Regions from separate parts of the Homo sapiens genome. Here region 1 is linked to region 2. Evidence: fine-mapped expression QTL. A gene starts in region 2. The other region holds a variant in brackets. All regions are shown on one strand. Distances are between the middles of the regions.

Region 1 (10,587 bases), 48 kb before region 2:
GATGTTAATGTATTCTTTCCAAGCAAGGGAGAAAGCCCATGCCCAGAGGTGGAAGCAGTGGCACCTGAATTGCTCAGCTGATATTCACTGATAAGAAAGCGACCCTGTCCTCTTTTTTGGTCATATTCTTCCATAATGCCTTCAATAGCACCATGCATTTCTCCATCATCACTGTCTTTGCACACATTCATTGTCTGAATGAGTAATAACCTTTCCAAGGTCTATCTTCCCTGTTATATTGTAAGCTCCAAGAGGATAAGCAACATGTTGGTCATAGTCCATACCCTATTTCTAGTGCCTAATACTGTGCTTAGTATATAGCAAGCACAATTTTAATATATTATGAGTTAATGAATGAATGAACAGGCCCTTGTCTCCTTCCCTAAGGGCTAGGCAGTTTAATCCTAAGACAACCAGGTGCTTTCAAAAATAACTCTTTCTGAACCAATACAGGTGACATGGACATTTTCTTAATATATTATTCTCTAAGGAAACATTTCTTCACTTGTTCCACTACGCTATGTAAACACTCTTATCTGGCAATCTCTTCAGCATGTATACATTTAACGTGTATTTAGTATTTTTCTTTTCTAACTTTTTATTGTGCTTGTATCTTATCAAATCATATTATTTATACGTTTTTACTGTGTATGCTCCTAGACTTCCTCTCTGCCTGCTCTGATCTTTGGATGCTGCAGGCGAAGCACCTTACCTGTCCCAGCTTTAGATTCCAGCATTAAATGCTGGCATTAAGCCCATACCAGCCCTTGGATAGGCAGAGATCAGATACTGTTTGACATTAACAGAGAAATGAGATCCTAATGAGGACACTCTCAGGCACCAATATGAATTAGCATGGAAATGGCCAAATTCAACCTTGAAGTTCTGCTCTCTTTTCGATTTCTTCTTCATATCAAATAACCATCAAAAAGTAAGTAAACTTTCAAGGGAATGATTTGTTGGGTTATGGTCTCAGATTTCAAGAAATAGGGCTTCTAGGGAAAAGCATCGGCACGTGTGATGTCATGAGAGGAGGGGAAGAGGAGGGTCTAAGGCAGAATGCCGCCTCTGCTCAAAGATGTTATTCATTTTATACCACATTTCACCTCTTCCCTCATGCCTTTCTCCAGTCTTCAAAAATGTGAATTTTGGTCACTGTTGGCCTTGCCTCTTATTGCAAAGAAAGTTTTGTCATTTAGTGACTGGGAAATAGCCTGTTGTATGAATTGTATTTAAAATTATTGTGCAACTGGGACCATAAGCATGAATGTATAAGGGTTCACAATCTTCCCTCTCTGTGACTGCTAGCTTGTCTCCAGGACTCTGTGAAGCTAATCAGGCCAATGGGTAGAAAGATCTGATAACTGGAAGATAAGATACAGACTGGGATTTTTTTTTTCAATCTTATAAAGAGACAAATTTATTTATTTTTGTGTTTTGTTGGGAGAGAGGGAGGAAAAAGACCAGAACCCTGAGTGCAATGCAGGGATGAGAAAGAGATTTTGTGAGTTGAGCAAGTCTTTGAAAAAAAACTTCAGAGTGATGGGAAATAGAAAGAAAGATGCAGAAATAATTGTTAGGATGTCTGCTAGATATTCTTCTGACATTCTTCAAGAGTCCCTGGTAAATATTTGAATTATTTTCCAATTAGTCTTGGTGTTCAAAGTTGTGTTTATTTGAATGTCATATAAACTGGACCACATGGGTCAACATATTTAAATTGACTTCTTTTATCCATATATATAGAGAAATCAATATTGCAGGTAGGTGAAACCCAACCAATCAGAATTTTCTTAACTAATTTAACTTGTATTTTCCTTGAGAACTCTTAAGAGAAACAAATAAATGAAAGACAATTATTTCATACAAGAAATTCTGTTAGAATACACACATATGCAACTGTTACAGAATAGAAACACACTTCAATCTTTAATACTTTTTACAGACACAACTCTAATCAGTAACATGAACATTCGACTGAAATTTAAAATGGTGGCCCTGAAATACTTTTTAAGTCTCAATTTTTGTACGTACTAAAGAAAGATAATCAAAAGATATTTTTGGCATGAGACCCAATCCCTTCTGGCCTGAGGCATTGTTATGAAAGGTAGTTTGTTGCATACCTGTCTGGCTACCTAAAGCCACTTCCCGTTTGCCCCAAGAACACTGTGCTGGCAGTGAGCCACATTTTTTTCCAAACAGGAAATGGGTTAAAGACACAGCATGCAATTCTGAAGGGACCCCAGATCAGCAACTTACGGACACATGTTTGGAAAAGGAAACTTCACTTTGATGCATCAATCATTTTTCACTCTGTTCCTTTTCTTTAAAAGACGGGACTTTATGAGCAGTACCTTAAGGAGAAGCAAACTAAGATTTCTCTGTGCTCTGAGGAAACTCTAAAACATTGAAGGGCAAAACAACTAGATTTTTATCTTTCCCATTGGAAACTTTTTCTCAAAATGACCCATTCCTATCAGGCCTTTGGGGCTCCTCCTCAGGTATGTTTCTATTCTCTATTAAGACAAAGGGGCAGGCTCTCACACCCACACAACACTGATAGACATCACTTGTGGCCAGATTTTTTGTTTGGGTTTTTTTTTTTTTTTTTGCCTTCTTTAACTTCTGTTGAGAAGAAAGCCCTGAATTCCAGCTTCCATCAATTGGCTGTCATCCCAGGCCACACAATTGGCAAAGCCCTGCATCCTAAGACCTCCCAAAAACAGAGAAGCCTGGGGATCTGAAACAGGTACCACTGATTATTTTAGCTGTAGAGGCCTTTTGTTGTCATTTGCCACTGTTACTTACACAATTCTTTAGTCGTGACTTTTAAGTCTCTCACTTGGTCTTTTTTCCACTGAAGTTTTATCCTGATTCATTCTTCCTCTTCCCAGACCTTGGCTTGTGACATCTCTGCTAGGATTGATATCAACACCATGGTTGTGTTTATGTCTCCCCCTGCATGCCAGGCTCACTGATGTGGTGAGTGGAGCTCTGGGAAGCCGAGCTGAGGAGGCTGAGTCATCAGTCATCATCTCTTGACTCCCTGGGTCTGACCAAAATGACAGAGGCTCCTCACACTAAAGTGTACTGGGAGACCACAGCAAAAAAGAGGCAAAGGACTTCTCCCATTTGACTCTAACCACTTTATAAAAGGTCACATTTTTGTCATAGCAGTAGGGAGATGTTAGTGTGGAAATCTCAATGCAGCTTCCATTCCATTTCGTTTTTCAGGCCACAGCTTAAATGACCCTTTCTAAATGGTAAACCACATTGAAAAGCTATTAAAGCTTAATATAGGCATACTCTGTGACCCAGCATTTTTAATTCTGAATATATATATATGCATATATACATTTATATGATATATTCATATAGCATATACATAATATATATAATAGAAATCCATTCATATGTTTACCAAAAGGCATGTACAGGAATGTTCATAGCAGTACTATTTATTTATTTATTTATTTATTTATAGAGACAGAGTCTTCCTCTGTTGCCCAGGCTGGAGCACAGTGGCACAATCACAGCTTGCTGCAGTCTCAAACTCTTGGGCTCAAGCAATCCTCCTGCTTCAGTCTCCCAAGTAGTTAGGACTACAGCTGTGCACCACCACAACTGGCTAATTTTTTTTTTTTTTTTGAGATGGAGTCTCACTCTGTTGCCAGGCTGGAGTGCAGTGGCGCAATCTTGGCTCAGTGCAACCTCCTCCTCCAGGGTTCAAGAGATTCTCCTGCCTCAGCCTCCCTAGTAGCTGGGACTATAGGCGCCCACCACCACACCCAGCTAATTTTTGTATTTTCAGTAGAGACAGGGTTTCACCATGTTGGCCAGGATGGTCTTGATCTCTTGACCTTGTGATCCGCCCACCTCAGCCTCCTAAAGTGCTGGGATCACAGGTGTGAGCCACCATGCCTGGCCCACCTGGCCAATTTTTTAATTTTTTGTAGATACAGGGTCTCCCTATATTGCCCAGGCTGGTCTCAAACTCCTGGCCTCAAGTGAACCACCCACCTCCGCCTCCCAAAGTGCTGAGATTACAAGTGTGAGCCACCATGCCTAGCCATAGCAAGACTATTGATATTAACAAAAAACCAGAAACTGCCTGAGTCTCCATCAACAATATAATGATATATAAATTGTGGCATATTTACATGATAACATACTGTATAGCAATGAGAATGAAAGAAATATAACTACACACAACAATATGGATGAATACCACAAACATTATATTGAGCAAAAAAAGCAAATAGAAAAAAAATACTGTATGCTTTAATTTACGTAAAGTTAAAAACTAGGCAAAATTACGCTGTTAGAAGTCAGGATAGAGATTATTCTCGGGGGTTAGGAGTGGAGTATGGGGAGGTCTTCTGCCCTTCTAGTAACTTTCCATTTCTTATGTAGACACTACTTACCCTGATGTGTTCAGGTTGTGAGCAAGTTATGCACTTTTCACTTTTTATGTTATGTTTTAATTAAAAACTTTTTAAAAAGTCATCTTCTCGTATGTGCTACAATATGGATGAACTTTTGAAGACATTATCCTGAGTAAAATAAGCCAGAAACAAAAGGATAAATATTGCATGAATTCACGTATGAGGTTCTTAG[A/T]GTAGTCAAATTCATAGATACAGAAAGTAGAACAGTGGTTGCCAGGGGATGGGGGGATGGAATAGTGGATGATTTGGGTTTAATGAGTTGAGAGTTTCAGTTTATGATCGTGAATAAGTTCTGGAGATGGATGTGGACGATGGTTGCATAACAGTGAGATTGTACTTAATGCCACTGAACTGTACCTTTCAAATGGTTAAACTGGTCAATTTTATGTTACGTATATTTCACCATAACTTAAAAAGTCATATCATTGCAGACTTTCCTGATCACCTCACATAAATGGTACTTAACATAATAGGTTCTCAGTAAATGTCTGATGAACCAACACATTTTCCAGGAGATCTGAGGCAAGTTATGAAACACTTCTGTAAATCTTTCCTTTAGTTATTTATTTATTCATTCATTATAAAAATCTTTATTAAGCATTTATGCATATATTTTGGGGGAATTAAAAAGTGAAATGAGACAGCATGTTTTTCCAGAGATGAAACTAGCTCTTGCAAGTAGAAATGCATTCCCAGCCTTTGGCTAGCTCTCGGCTAGAGGCTGGGTCAGAACAGCACATAGATTTCAACTCAATGTGACAGATCAAATTGTTTAGTATTAGCTGCTTCCAGAATTTGTTGAAAAGGATTCTGAGGCCCATCAGGGCTCAGCAGTAAAATAAATATCATTAAAAAAGAGTTAGCTTTGTGAACTTGGACAAGTTAAAAAAATTAATAATATTTACATGAGACCTTGAAAGAGGCGTGATGGCATGGGTATTGTGGGTTTTGCTATCCATCCTTAGGCTTGCTCGTGTCTCACCAAGAGTGTTGCAGATGTGAATCAGAAATCAGACTCAACCTGAACTAACAGATGATTTCCAGGTCTTTTTCACCTGGGAGTCTTTGAGAATAAAAATGAGTCCCAGTGCTTAATGGTCCTCATGGAGCTAAACAATAAGCTGCTCTAGTTTCTTTTCTACAAAATGAGAGGAATTATTACTGTTATTCTATTCCTTGGTTCACAGACATATTAGGGAGGTGGAATCCCTAAGATAAACTCTAAACAAACACACATTTGGATGTCCTTTTGAACCTTGATGAGAGCAAAAGGAATGAATATAAGATAATGAAATTATTATTACAACTGACATTTTTGAGAATCTATTGTGTACTATGTAATACTTTAAGTATCTAAGGTAGCTTGTAGCATCATCTTTTTTTTTTTTTTTTTTTGAGATGGAGTCTCACTGTGTTGCCCAGGCTGGAGTGCAGTGGCACGATCTCGGGCTCACTGCAACTTCTGCTTCCCGGGTTCAAGAGATTCTCCTGCCTCAGCCTCCCAAGTAGCTGGAATTACAGGCGCCCACGACCACGCCAGGCTAATTTTTGCATTTTTAGTAGAGACGGGGTTTCACCATATTGGCCAGGCTGCTCTGGAATTCCTGACCTTGTGATCACCCTGCCTCAGCCTCCCAAAGTGCTGGGATTACAGACGTGAGCCACCATGCCCGGCCATAGCATCGTATTTTAACAACAAACTGATATGGTAGGAATTCTTATTCACAGTTTACAGAAAAGAACACTAACTCATAGAAAAACTTACAAACTTGCCCTAAGTCACATTGTTAATAAATACTTGATCTGGGATTGAACCCACATCTTTCCACACATCACAGAGACACTGTAGGAACTTGGTACTGCTTCTCAGACATTGCAATCCCACAAAAGGGCAAGGTCAGACTTGCTGTTAAAGGCAAATGTCCAAAGCACCTGTTCCCTTGCCAGATGTTGATGTTCTTGTCCTCTCTGCCAGCTCCTATCCCACAGGCAATCAGGGCCCTCACACTGTCCACCACCCTTGTCCACACACTCGCCCTGACTGAAGCCCTGAGGGTTCCCAGATCCCGCACCTGCCTTCCCACCCAGGGCTTTGTGCCTAGAGAGCTGCTCTTAAGCCCTTCTCTGAGGTCTTCTGAATACCCCTACTCCATCATCAGTCAAAACAGCTGTGTTTTTTTTTTTTTTTTGCTATACCTGTTAGGCTTCTGTTAAGTTGAACAATAGGAAACTGCTGATATTCAACCATATTGCCTGCAAAAATGTCAATTTCATATAATTCAATATAATACATAAACTTCCTTGTAAACAGAAAGTCTGTGACTAAATAATCTGAAAGTTATTGCCCTAGGCCTTTAATGAGCTTGATGTTTTGCTTGGCCCAGTAAAATTAAACTCTGTTCCTTCTCAGACATAACTTGTTAGAGAATAAATGGGTACAAGCCCTCTCCAGGGCAATTTGTCAAAACATATTTCTTAAAGCTTTCCAGTTTTGACATCCAATGAAGCAGCAAATTCACTTCCAGGAATCTATTATAAGGAAATTATTAAAGAAACAAAAAATATTTAGCCACTAGGATGTAAACATCTTTGTATTAATAGTGGGAAAATGTAAAACATACCCACCTCCCACACACATAAAACTAAATGTTCAATATCAAGAGTTTGGTTAATTAACTTACAGTATTTTTATATAATGCAATACTATACATTCATGAAAAATTATATATAACCAATAAAAAAGAATTCAGTAAAACAAAAAAGTAAATTTAATATTGAATGAAATAATCAATAGCTTTCCTATCCACAAGTGTAAGCCAGTTAGAATATATCATGAAAGAGAAGATCCCATTTAAAAAACTACAGGCCAGATGCAGTAGCTCACACCTGTAATATCAGCATTTTGGGAAGGCGAGGCAGAAGGATCACTTAAGGCCTGGAGTTCAAGACCAGCCTGCACAACAAAGAAAGACCCTATCTCTATGAAAAAAAAAAAATTAGCCAAGTGTGGCACACACCTGTAGTCCCAGCTACCCAGAAGTCTGAGGCAGAAGGATTGTTTGAGCCCAAGAGATCAAGGCTGCAGTGAGGCATGTTCATGCCACTGCACTCCAGCCTAGGCAACTGAGCAAGACCCTGTTTCAAAACAAAAAACCAACAACCAAAAAACCATAAAATACCTAGGAAGAAAATGGAACATGAAACATACAAAACCTATATGAGGAAAAATTCAAAACATTTCAAAAAGACACAAAGTTAAACTTGAATAATTGGGACACATAATAAATTCTTGGATAAGGAAATTCATTATCATAAAGATGTTAGTTCTCCCGAAGTTAACCTATTTATTTATTTATTGTGATTCCAACAAAAATGCTAATAAGATTTTTCATAAAGAAGACAAAATTATTCTAAAGTCGCATGGATATACCAAAATCAACTGAAGATGGATTAAAGACTTAAACAAAAGACCCAAATCTATAAAAATACTAGAAGAAAACCTAGGGAAAATTCTTCTAGATATAGGTCTAGGCAAGAATTTATGACTAAGACCTCAAAAGCACAGGCAATAAAAACAGGCAAATGGGACATAACTAAATGAAAACACTTCTGAACAGCAAAAGAAAGAATCAACAGAGTGAACAAATAATCTGCAGAATGAGAGAAATATTTGGAAACTATCCTACATGCAACTAATATCCAGAATATACAAGGAACTCAAAAAACTCAATGGGAAAAAAAAAAACAAATACTGTCATTAAAAAGTGGGCAAAGGATATAAATAGACATTTTTTCAAAAGAAGACATACAAATGGCCAACAGGTATATGAAAAAATGCTTGACGTCACTAATCATCAGAGAAATGCAAATTAAAACCACAATAAGATATCATCTTACCCCAATCAGAAGCTATTATTCAAAAGATAAAAGATTTGGGGGAGGGTGTGGAGAAAAGGGAATGCTTATACACTGTTGACGGGAATGTAAATTAGTAAAATCTCTATAGAAAACAGTAGGGAGATTTCTCAAAGAACTAAAAATGGAACTACCATTTGATCCAGCCATCTCATTACTGAGTATCTGGCCAAAGAAAGAGAAATCAATATATCAAAAAGATACCTGCACTTGTATGTTTATCAACTACTCACAATAGCAAAGATATGGAAGCAACCTAGTTTCCATCAGCAGGTGACTGGATAAAGAAAATGTGGTATATATAAAGAATAAAGTACTATTCAGCCATAAAAACATGAAATCATGTCTTTTGCAGGAACTTGGATGGAACAGGAGGGCATTGTCATAAATGAAACAAGCCAGACACAGAAATATAAATATTGCATGTTCTCACTTATAAATGAGTGCCAGAAAAGGTGTATATGTAAGTAGAGAGGGAAATGATAGACAATGGAGACTCAGAAGAGTGAAGGAGTGGAAGGGGATGGATAATTGGAAATCACTTAATGGGTACAAAGTACGTTATTTGGGTGATGGATATCCTAAAAGCACTGACATCACCACTATGCATGTAATAAAATTGTACTTATATCCCATAAATTTATACAATTAAAAAAATAAAGTCACATAGAAAAAAGGACAGGCAAGAACAGCCAAGAAGCAAGAAAGACAAGAGCAATGGTGGGGAGGGGAGCATAGCCATATCAGATATGAAAACATATTATAAAGCTTCTATAATTAAATTAGCATAATAATAGTTCACGACTGGACAGACAGACCAATAGAACAGAATTTTCTGAACAGAATAGAACCACCATCAGAGTGAACAGGCAATCTACAGAATGGGAGAAAATTTTTACAATCTACCCATCTGACAAAGGGCTTATATCCAGAATCTACAAAGAACTTAAATTTACAAGAAAAAATCAAACAACCCCATCAAAAAGTGGGCAAAGGACATGAACATATACTTCTCAAAAGAAGACATTTATGCAGCCAACAGACACATGAAAAAATGCTCATCAACACTGGCCATCAGAGAAACGCAAATCAAAACCACAATGAGATAACCATCTCACACCAGTTAGAATGACAATCATTAAAAAGTCAGGAAACAACAGGTGCTGGAGAGGATGCAGAGCAATAGGAACACTTTTACACTGTTGCTGGGACTGTAAACTAGTTCAACCATTGTGGAAGACAGTGTGGCAATTCCTCAAGGATCTAGAACTAGAAATACCATTTGACCCAGCAATCCCATTACTGGGCATATACCCAAAGGATTATAAATCATGCTGCTATAAAGACACATGCACACATATGTTTATTGCAGCATTATTCACAATAGCAAAGACCTGGAACCAACCCAAATGTCCATCAATGATAGACTGGATTAAGAAAATGTGGCACATATATACCATGGAATACTATGGAGCCATGAAAAAGGATGAGTTCATGTCCTTTGTAGGGACATGGATGAAGCTGGAAACCATCATTCTGAACAAACTGTTGCAAGGACAGAAAACCAAACACCACATGTTCTCACTTATAGGTGGGAATTGAACAATGAGAACACTTGGACACAGGGTGGGGAACATCACACACCGGGGCCTGTTGTGGGGAGGGGGAAGGGATAGCATTAGGAGATATACCTAATGTAAATGACAGATAATTGGTGCAGCACATCAACATGGCACATGTATACATACGTAACAAACCTGCATGTTGTGCACATGTACCCTAGAATTTAAAGGATAATAATAAAAAAAAGAAAAAAAATGATCAATGTCACTAGTCAGGGAAATGCAAATTAAACCACAATGAGCTATCACTTTACAACTGTTAGAATAGCTGCTATCAGAAAGACGAAAGATAATAAGTACTGGCAAGAATGTAGAGAAAAGGGAACTCTTGTACATTGTTGGTGAGAATATAAATTAATATAGCCATTACAGAAAACACTATGGATGGTCTTTAAAAAAATTAAAAATAAAACTATCATATGATCCAGCAATCCCACTACTGGGCATATATTCCAAAGAAATGAAATCAGTATGTCAAAGAAAAAAAATTTAAATAGGCTCAAACACACATATACATTTAATATGTACTACAGGTGACATCTCAAATCACTAAGTTTGTAATGTGAGGGTGGGAAAAATTGACTTTTTCATACATGACGTTGGGA
Region 2 (10,074 bases):
AGTAACAAATTCAACTTTTATTCATAACTGTAAGTAGGGCTCCTCTGATTTAGTTTCTTCTTCCTGAATCTCTCAGTCACTGAGTATTGAAACTACTATAGACTCCAAGCACTTTACAACTTAACTATTTCCCTCTTTGTTTCTAGAGCTATCACTAGGGATTTCTCTCCTGAGGGTTTTACTTGTAACTTCCTAGTCCTCACACTTCTCACTTGATCTCTGAACTAGTTGGTACTGGGAGTCAAGAACAATTACAAAAGAAAGAGAGAATGACAAGGGAAACTTTATAAATGTCCAATTCATGCTTCTGGTCCTCTCTACTCTTAGCACAGTGGGCTGGGTGCATTAAGGAGGAAGGGAGAATGAAAGAGGGAGGATATACTTTAGTAATCACTCTTCCAAACACCATCCTTATGTAGACACTCTATTTTTCACTCTTAGTATCTTTCTGGCTCCCTTTTACTGATTAGATCAGCCACCCTAAAGTAGCGGCATCATGGTCTCGAAACTGGGCGGGTCCTCAACCCTAGTGCTAGGACAGCTTAAAACATTAGGGTCAGGGAAAGACGTATTGGCATCCCACATTCAAGGCTGTAATCTAGTCTTTCAAAGAAATAGTTTTAACTCTGATGATCATTTGTAATAGTGTAGGTACACGACTAGCAAACTGACCACCTCAAAACTAATACTGGCTCTATGAAAAAAATGTATAACTTTCAAATGATGACATTTATGTGAATTAATACATTAAGCTGGGAACTACAAATTTTGAACCATGTGAGGTTTTTAATAGTTATTTCTTTGAAGAAAAAAAAAGAATTCCATCCTAAAGGCACTTAATTGATTAGATAAATTGGCATTTTTCCGATGTGTTAATGAATTAATGCAGTCTACTCAGCAATATTCCATATCAAACTCACCATAATCTATAGAATAATTCAAATTAATACGTTATTCTAAAGAAGACTCAGAAGCAAAGATTCTTGATACTCCTGGTTTGACTGTTTCATAACTCTGTTCCTGTAGTTTCCATTACTGTTCTACGAACTGTACACCTTAAATGTGGATACATCTGCAAGTAGCAACAAGGATTTCCAAACAGACTCAATGGCAAGTGGTCCTAGTGGCTATCTCACTTTTCATAAGAGAACTATCCCACTTCTGCCTAACTGAAGAATACTTGATGACATTCTACCATATTTTATTTGCCTATTAAGAGAAAACTACCTATATTCATAGTTATATAAATCTCAATTCTTTACCATAAGAAAAAAGTATTTCAATGATACTCACTTTTTTTTTTGTCATAGCTTTCCTTTTTAAATGTTTGTCCATGATTTCTTTTTCCAAAGACATAATCTGACTTGGAGTTAGCTGTTCTTTAAATCTGCTTATCTCTTCTTTATATACCTGCCACTCCGCCCTATAAGCATCTTGATATATCTATAAATAAAAAACCCAAGTAAGTCAACAAACCATTGCTGGCAAATTCAACATAGCACATGCCAGGGAAAGGCAACTGCATGACTTCAGACAGACAGATTTTATCACCAGGTGGAAAATGTGCTCTGGGATGAGATGTATATGGATTAAAACATACATTTTCCTTATATATACTAATCAAGGTGAGAGTTTAGTAATCAGCTTCCATTTTCAAACTACTGCCACTTCTTCACCTCCACCCCATACATCCATATTCTCATTATTTATGCAGATGAGAAGACATAAAGTTTCTTTGTAGATAACAGATTATTTTTTAAAAAGTCTGATCCATCTGGTCCTTTAAAGGACATGACAATTGCTCCTAACTGCAGAATAACTGGTCAGCAATGTTGAAAACTTATGTGCTTACTTTTTTCTTTGAATCAGGAAGTTCCCTCCAACGCTGGGCAATTCTTCTAATTAGTTCTGTAGTTTTTGCATCTATGGAATGAAATAAAAAGAAAAAAGATGCCACAATTTTACCTCTCAGGATTAATTTCTAAAGATATCCAGGAAAGCACAATCCATACCACACATAACTTAATATAATGATTTAACTTTCCTTTATCCAACTAATTTAAACGTAAGTAATTTATCCAACATTATCAAAAGTCTATTATCTAACAACTAAGGAGTATACCATATACCACCAGAAACAGTCAACAGTTTGATTACTAGGATTTTTTTTTTTTTTTGAGACAGGGTCCGTCACCCAGGCCATCACCCAGGCTGCAGTGCGGTGGTACAATCTTGGCCTAATGCAACCTCCACCTCCTGTGCTCAAGTGATTCTCCTGCCTCAGCCTCCCGAGTAGCTGGGACTACAGGTAGGCGCCATCATGTCCAGCTAATGTTAGTATTTTTTGTAGAGACGGGGTTTCGCTATGCTGCCCAGGCTGGCCTCAAACTCCTGAGTTCAAGCAATCCATCTGCCTCAGTCTCCCAAAGTGCTGGGATTACAGGCGCGAGCCACCACACCAGGCTGATTACTAGTTTAAGAAGCTGGATGATCAATTGCTTCAAGTTTTTTACTTCCCTTCCATATTTCAAGCAAAACACTTTTTCAAGTCTTTGAGGAATTCCTAAATTTATAAAAGCTAACAACAAAATACATTCTCGATCCATATAACACAGCCTCGTATTTCAATAACAGAAATATCATTTGGAAACAAGCTATTCGAAATTCAATCTGTTATTCTCCACTTCCTTCTTCATCTTAACCGGAATGATGGCGTGCAATTAATTGATTTTTAAAAATACCTGTTAGTACTAACTCTTACATTTAAAAGATGTGGGTACTTAAGCATGTCTCTGAAACTAACTCCTTACCTATAATGTGAGCTTTTTTTTAAAATTATTATTGTTTTTTGAGACAGGGTCTCGCTCTGTCACCCAGGCTGGAGTGCAGTGGAGCAGTCATGGCTCACTGCAGCCTCAACTTCCTGGGATCCAGTGATCCTCTCACCACAGCCTCCCAAGTAGCTGGGACTACAGGCACTGCGCCCCCATGCCCACCTCATTTTTGTATTTTTGGTAGAGACAGGATTTCCATGTTTCCCAGGCTGTTCTCGAACTCCTGGGCTCAAGCAATCCACCCATCTCGACCTCCCGAAGTGCTGGGATTACAGGTGTGAACCACCTCACCCAGCCTGATGTGAGCATTTTTTATTCTCGCCGAGAGGCTTTCTAGAGAGTCAACAAACATCCTACCTGGAAATGTTTTTTTTTTAGGAACCCAAGACAAGAAAGGATTTATCCTTTACAACCCACCATCCCCTTGGCAAGGTCGAGGTCTGAATCAAAGAACCAGAGTGGCTCTGAACTCCTATGATGAAAAGGTTTATCCTTTCTTATCTTGAAAGCTCTTGAAATTAGCAGTAAATTGCATAGAACTTTACAGTTCTACAGAACTTACAGTTTATGGATGCTTCCACAGAAGTTGCAACTTTATTAACAATTCCCTGAGCCAGAAAAAGGAGGAGCTAGGCAAGAGAAAATAATTCATCAGTGGTCCTCTAGACCAAAGGCAACAAGGCCCCAAATTCAGCTTTTTTATCCTCTTCCTAGGGTGCTTTCTACACTATACGTTATTTTTAAAATACCATTTACTAGTTCTCATTTATATTTAAAGCATTTCCATTTGGTATAAAATAGAACTTCCTATTTTACAGACATCAAATGATTGTTCCTGCAGTCACTGAATGCTTTAGCACTGCAATTCAACATTGGTATTTAACTGCTTAATGGCATTTTTATTACATGAGAAAAGGGTATATGCCCCAAAACTCCTTACCTGGGTTCTGAGCTTTAAATATGGGTAGTTGTTCTTTAGAAAATCGAAGGTAAGAACTTACAGGTTTCTTTGGACAACTTGCCAAGACAGATGAAAACCACCTCGGTAAATACACAAAACTACATATAAACAAAAAGAAAATAACCAGTGTCAGATGTTTAACTGTCAATATTCACATGTATATGAACACAGATCCCAAATAAGAAATGTCATCAAGATACTATGTATCCAACGCCTTCAACAAGAATGCTAGAGACTTATTAAAACCCTGTCCTAAACGGAGGGGAGCGTCTGCAGGACTGAAGTCTCAAAGCCCTTACCTCCTAGGAAGGGCAGGGAGTGAAGGAAAGCGTCTATACTCCAGCTCCTGGGCCCCGCCTCCTCAATGCCTAGATGATGGCCGGAGACTCGGCGCGAATTCGCAGAGGAGGCGGAAAGGATCCAAAGCTGGACAGTGAGGAGGGATGGGAGAAGCGAGTGGAGGGTAGCAAGAAGGTACGGCGTATTAAGAGAGTAAATAAAGGCCTGGTCTCAAGGCCACCGTCCCCTTGGCAAGGTCGCGGTCTGAATCAAAGAACCAGGGTGACTCTGAACTCCTAGGAGGGGCAGAAAGTGAAGGATAGGGTCTACATTCCAACCCCGGGACGTCCTGGGCCCTGCTGCCCCTAGGGCACAGGCAAGCGGGCCTACCTGAAGGGGGAGCGCAGTCGACTTCCACAGCCGGTGCACAGCTCTGCTCCAGACCTTCCCAGGGCACTCAGCACGCCCCACATGCTTCGGAGAAACGCCATCGCTCCGGTGGATGAGGCAGTGACCCGACCCCAATCTCGGAGAGCCTCCTGGCAATACACAACTCCAGCAATCACAACTGGAACCCGCGTGCGACCCTCCGGCGTGTGTTATCATGCCCGCCACTAGCGAGGCACTATGGGAAATCTGCTAACATCCGGTCGGTAGATGGGGGCGGGGCGGGGCGGAATTGGCGCAGGCGCGGGAGAGCGTACCCCGGTGGGCGGCCTTGCGGGGGAGGAATAAGAGCCGCGGAGATGAAGGGAAACCGCAATCCTCTAGCCTGCGGAGGGCTCTGGCTTCGAGGCGGCGCTGTTGAGCCACCTCTGTCCCCGGCCGCCCGGAGCAGTGGGTTCCTCTGCCGGGCCAGGAGGGTGATGGAGGGACCGCGGCGGCGGCCTCACCCCAACCCGGCGTTGGCCGGTGTCCGCCCGTGACGGTCACAAGGGCTGTACGTAACAGACAGTCCTGCATCCAGGACCCCGAGGTCCGATCGGCGGCTGCTGCGCGCCCAGCGGAGCGTCTCAGTTCAAGCCAGGGCTGGAGCTCGGAGTTCAGAAATAGTAACGGGAGAGGCGGGGATTCGCAAACCTAAAAATGCAGATTCCAAGGCCTTACCGCAGAGCTTAATTCCGTGTGTCTATGTGGGGCCCATTAATCTTCATTTTAGCGAGTTCCCCAGAATTTAACAAGTTCTAATGTCGGTGGTCTTGAGACCACATTTAAAGCAATATAGCTTTAGACTGTTTATTCTACCATCTACTGCAGTCTTTCAGTCTGGCCTCCAGCTTGCTTAATTTGAGCAGAGGAAACTGGCTAGTTGTCCACAGTCGCTAGTCTCAATTCTTCTAGTTCCAGTATTAACATTAACGTCTTGACTTGGGAATATTGCATTCCCTCGTTAAGATTCAGTTTCCCCCTCTGCAAACGAGGATGTTAGACTAAATCAGTTTTCCCAGCCAAAGCCCTGAGAACGTGTGACAAGTATGCCTTGAGACATTGATGTGTCAAAAATTGCTGTATAATTTTTTTATTTGTGTTATAGAAATACCATTTTCTGTATAGGCAATGGCATGAAAAAGATTAGGAAGACCTAAAGATACCTAAGGGTCCTTCCAGCCCTTAAATACCAGTTGTTTCAGAGCTAACCACCTTCTGAGACAGCCTTTCTTCTGTTGGATAGCCGTAATTGTTAGAAAATTCTTACCAGTGTCATATTGAGCTGACAGTCTATTTACCTTTCTGTAACTATGAAAACATTGGCTCTCTGGAAGTAGGACTAAGCCTACTTCTTCTTTTAAGCGGTAATAACCACTTCCCTTTTATAGACTCCCAGGGTTGAAAGGGACCTTCCAAGTCATCTGTTCAAACCTCCCATTCTGGCATGGAATAAACAGGTTTTTTTCCTGAGTATATACTATGTACAACGCCCTAAACATAGATAAAAGACACAGTGTTGTGCCCCAGCCCACCCCCCGCCCCCAGCCCCAAAGGTGAGGCAAAGTAGCAAATAATTACAACATGGGGCTCAGACAGAAGTTACATTTAAGTTGATTTCTAAAATAATTTGTTTCCCTTTTTGTTCTAGAATGTTTTTGTTCTTTCAAATGTTTGACATAAACTTCTTTTGGATATTAAACTTTTTGTTGTTTTCGACTTTCATTTGTATAAATCTTGCTGTAAAGACCTTAAAAATCAAATCCATAACATTTTTCATCAGATACCAATCTTCCTTAAAACTCATTTACATTGCAGTGATAATTTTACTTCTAAAAGCAGAATTTACAAAGAAACATAACTTTATCCACTAAAACTGTCTTTTAACAAAAAGACATGGTATATAATTACTTTATAAAACATGAAGACTTACTGCAGCCTTTCCCAGGGTCCCTTTGTTGTAAAGTTCTCTAGTCCCATGACTTCAGCTATTAGTTATAGCCTCATGACTGCCATATTGAACCCAGTCCTCTCCTTTGAGTTCCGTATCCACATAACCACTGTCTTCTGTACATTTTCACCATCATGTCCCACAAGTACTTCAATTTCAACATTCCCTGAACAAAATCCACTATCTTTCACCCATCTTGAAGTCCTTCTCTTGGTAAGATGCACATGTTTTCCTCTTTAATCATCTGAGCCAATAACTTGATAAATCATTTTAGAATCTCCCCATTGACACTCCACCTGCCATTAACCAACTGATGATGAGTATTGCTGATTCTGCCTCATTCATCCCTCTAGTATGTATTTCCTTCTCTCTAGTCCCATTGCTGTTGCTTTTGTTCAGGCCAGTAATATGCTGGTAAATAGCTCTCCAAAAAAGAAAGCCCCAATTTGTGGTGTTTGCTGAGTTCTATGGTGTAAATACTCCCACCATTGGCAGATTTCATGCTACTGACAAATTTTTCTTTTCCTGTTAACATGCAAACATACATATTACATAACCAGCATTGCTCCTTTCTTCCTGTTGAACTTTTAATATTTCTTAAATTAGTAATATTTGAGCAGACACATTGTGGTAGTTGATGAAAAATTAAAACAACACACCCTGAAGTTGGATTGCACTTTAATATTTTCAGAAATTTTTAAATAACTTTATTTGACTGTATGATTCAAATATCAAAGGAAAAGGTAGAGAAGGTATTGTCATGATCATTATTCCCAATTTCCAGATGAGAAAAATGAAGTTCAGAAAGCCCAACTCATAAGCTTCCAACAGTAAGTTGTGTAGGTAAAAATTGCAATTCATTGTCCTGTGCTTTTCGTTTGTATCAGATCACTCAGACTCAGTGAACATGCCACATCATTCCAGCCCAAAATATCTTTAGTGGATCATCTATAGTGTGTGAGCTCACATCACTTACTTGTGACATCATGTACCACTCTGGTTTCTGATCTTTTTCTCTATGTATACATATTTTTTTCCACAATAGATGGTAAGTTATATTAGGAAAAGACTAAATCTTATGCCTTCTTTTATCCCCTATTGTACCTAGCACAGTACACTGAGCATGATAGATGGATGAAGGGACAAACGGATGGATAGGTGAACTGACAGATATATAGATAGATAGATAATAGATGACAGACAGACATATAGATACACAGAGAGAGATGAATAGTGTGAAAAGATTAGCATCTGCACAAATTATTTATATATAAATTTAGCCCCATAGAGAACAACTACCTGTTAGAAGTGTCATTTGCCAATAGAAGGACACATTTGCCAGTGTGTGGAGATGGAAACCATGTAAAATTCTGAAATATATATACACATGAAAGTAATGATTATGGTTCATTGATACTTGCACATTGGTAAAGCAGAAGGTAGTGCCAATAAACAGCAGGAGCAGCCAGAAACCTGGATAATTCCCTGCTGAATAATGGAGTTAGATGCACAGATATCACTCAAATGAAGAAAAAATGTTGCTAAGAGAAAGCAGTCTTGGCTTTTGTAATTATAATAGATAAATAATTTAGCTACAACAGGAGCAATTACCTAATAGGTTTTAGCAGGATAAATAGATGTGATTCTGAACTTGTAAGTAAAATATCTCTGGAAATAAGATCATACTATGGACACCACATTTAAAGACAATTTCCTCATAAGCAATTACAAAGCACTGTGATAAGCACTTGAAAGGGGCACAAAAAGCATAAGATATTGATCCTGCCCCAAAGAGCTGACACTGTGATTGGGGGAACAAAGCATAAAGACACAAAAGGAATAAAAGTATAACAGTGCATTGCAGCAATGAGAAAAAATTTTACACCTTGAATATCTCCTAGCTTATTTTTTCTGTGAGTCAAGATTTTAATAAATTATGTATGGAAAACTACTTGTATAATTTTTTCTTTCAAACCATTTTTATTGACATAGAGTCTGTTTTCATGCCACTGGAGTTTGCCTTTAAAATCAATATACAAAAAGAAGGAAGGGAAAGAGAAATAGAGAAATTAGAAGAAAGACCTGTTGCATGTTAATAGTTCCCAGCTACCCGAAATTATTATTATCTGTGAAATATTTCTCAATTAGAACAAAGTCTGCATGCAGCCTTAATTATTAAGGGCATATCAGAATTATTTTAAGCCATTGCTGTAGCAGCATTACAAAAAATAAATGTAGCTTGTCTATTTTAAAGCTGATTCTATGAGTCAGCAGGAGGTAGGACAAGCAAAAAGAACAGCTATAATTTTATGCAAATGTATAATACCCCAATTCATATTACTGGATGTTACTGAAAGCTGACTTCATATTACTGAAAGCTAACTTAAAGATCGGAAGAAATCCAGAATGATTGTATTGAAGGAATAATGCTGTTAATAGGACAATATAATGTGTCTGCCCTCATACCACGGTAAAGTATCTGATCAATACAAATGGTAATAATTATAATTTATTGCTAAACTACATGCCAAGTATTTTACATACATTATCACTAATCCTTTCATAAATCCTCTAAGGTGCTATGATTTCTACTGTACAGCTATGAAAACTGTATAAATAATAGGAAGGATATCTTCCTTGTTAGCATGTTAATAACAAAAATTGCCACCTCTGAATCCACAGTTTGCAGCTTTGAAGTTATATATGACTCTACGTAGATACAGGATAGGTAAATCAGTCATGAAGCGGTAGTTTTCTTAAACACCTGCTCACATTCTATTATTTCCAGTCCCCATAAATGCTTTCTTATTTATCTGAGTGGCTTACTAAAATAATATCTTAAGCCAGGGCAATGGCACATGCCTGTAGTCCCAGTTACTTGGGAGGCTGAAGCAGGAGGATTGCTTGAGCCCAGAAGTTTGAATCTAGCTTGGGCAACATAGCAAGACCCTTTCTCTTAAAAAGTATTCAGTCACCCAAAAACATAGGTTTGAATTTAAAGAACTACACATACACATATGCATGAGTGTGCGTGCAAAAGTAAGAGTGCAGAATAGTACACAAAATTTGGTTTAATAGTGATTGTATCTGAGTATTGCAGGAGTGCATGGGTGGTACTCATTTTTTAATTTATATATTATCTTAGTCTTCTTGTAAAACACAATAGTAATATTCATCTTTTAGTGATAATTTTTTAAAAACTCAGTTCCTAGGAGAGGCCAATACTGTGCCAGACACTGTGCTAAGTTCTAAAAGTACATATGGTTGGGTGCAGTGGCTCACGGGGGAGGATCACTTGAGCCCAGGAATTCGAGACCAGCCTAAGCAACACAGTGAGACCCCCGTCTCCATAAAATAAATAAATAATACATACAAATACGATTAAGGCCCGATCATCCATTTAAATTTACCTGGGAAAGCAGGGGATGGCTTCATAGAGTAGGTGACATTTGAACTGTTTTTTCGAGTGGGGAAAGGTTGAGATGCCTTCCAGAAAAGGAAAACAGTATGTGCAAGTCACAGATATTTATGAGGGCATGGTATATGTGAAAAGGAGTGGTATGAAACAAACCTCTTTAAATTTGAGTGGGGTTGGGTTGTAAAGGACTATGTATAATTTAAGT

Which allele goes with the higher level. Alleles are on the strand shown, and positions count from the first base shown. SD is a standard deviation of normalised expression in the study named.
With allele A in place of T in region 1, the expression in monocytes after interferon gamma of the gene that starts at base 4,703 in region 2 is lower (large effect, 0.79 SD a copy in Fairfax 2014).

The links. PIP is the estimated chance that this variant, and not a neighbour inherited with it, causes the effect. A credible set is the group of variants that fine-mapping cannot tell apart.
Region 1: its variant is the best candidate, but not a certain one, in a credible set for the expression of TFAM in monocytes after interferon gamma (Fairfax 2014, PIP 0.61).

What each region holds. Positions count from the first base shown.
Region 1 is chr10:58,427,879-58,438,465 of GRCh38, reverse strand. LOC105378316 (a long non-coding RNA gene) reads right to left here and starts at 4,540. Exons shown (of 5, transcript XR_945984.3): 1 at 4,425-4,540. The variant A/T (reference allele first, on the strand shown) is at 4,618.
Region 2 is chr10:58,380,039-58,390,112 of GRCh38, reverse strand. TFAM (transcription factor A, mitochondrial) reads right to left here and starts at 4,703. Exons shown (of 7, transcript NM_003201.3): 1 at 4,465-4,703; 2 at 3,775-3,893; 3 at 1,853-1,923; 4 at 1,294-1,443. The coding sequence starts at 4,565. RefSeq lists enhancers at 4,303-4,959, 5,153-5,252 and a silencer at 4,643-5,022.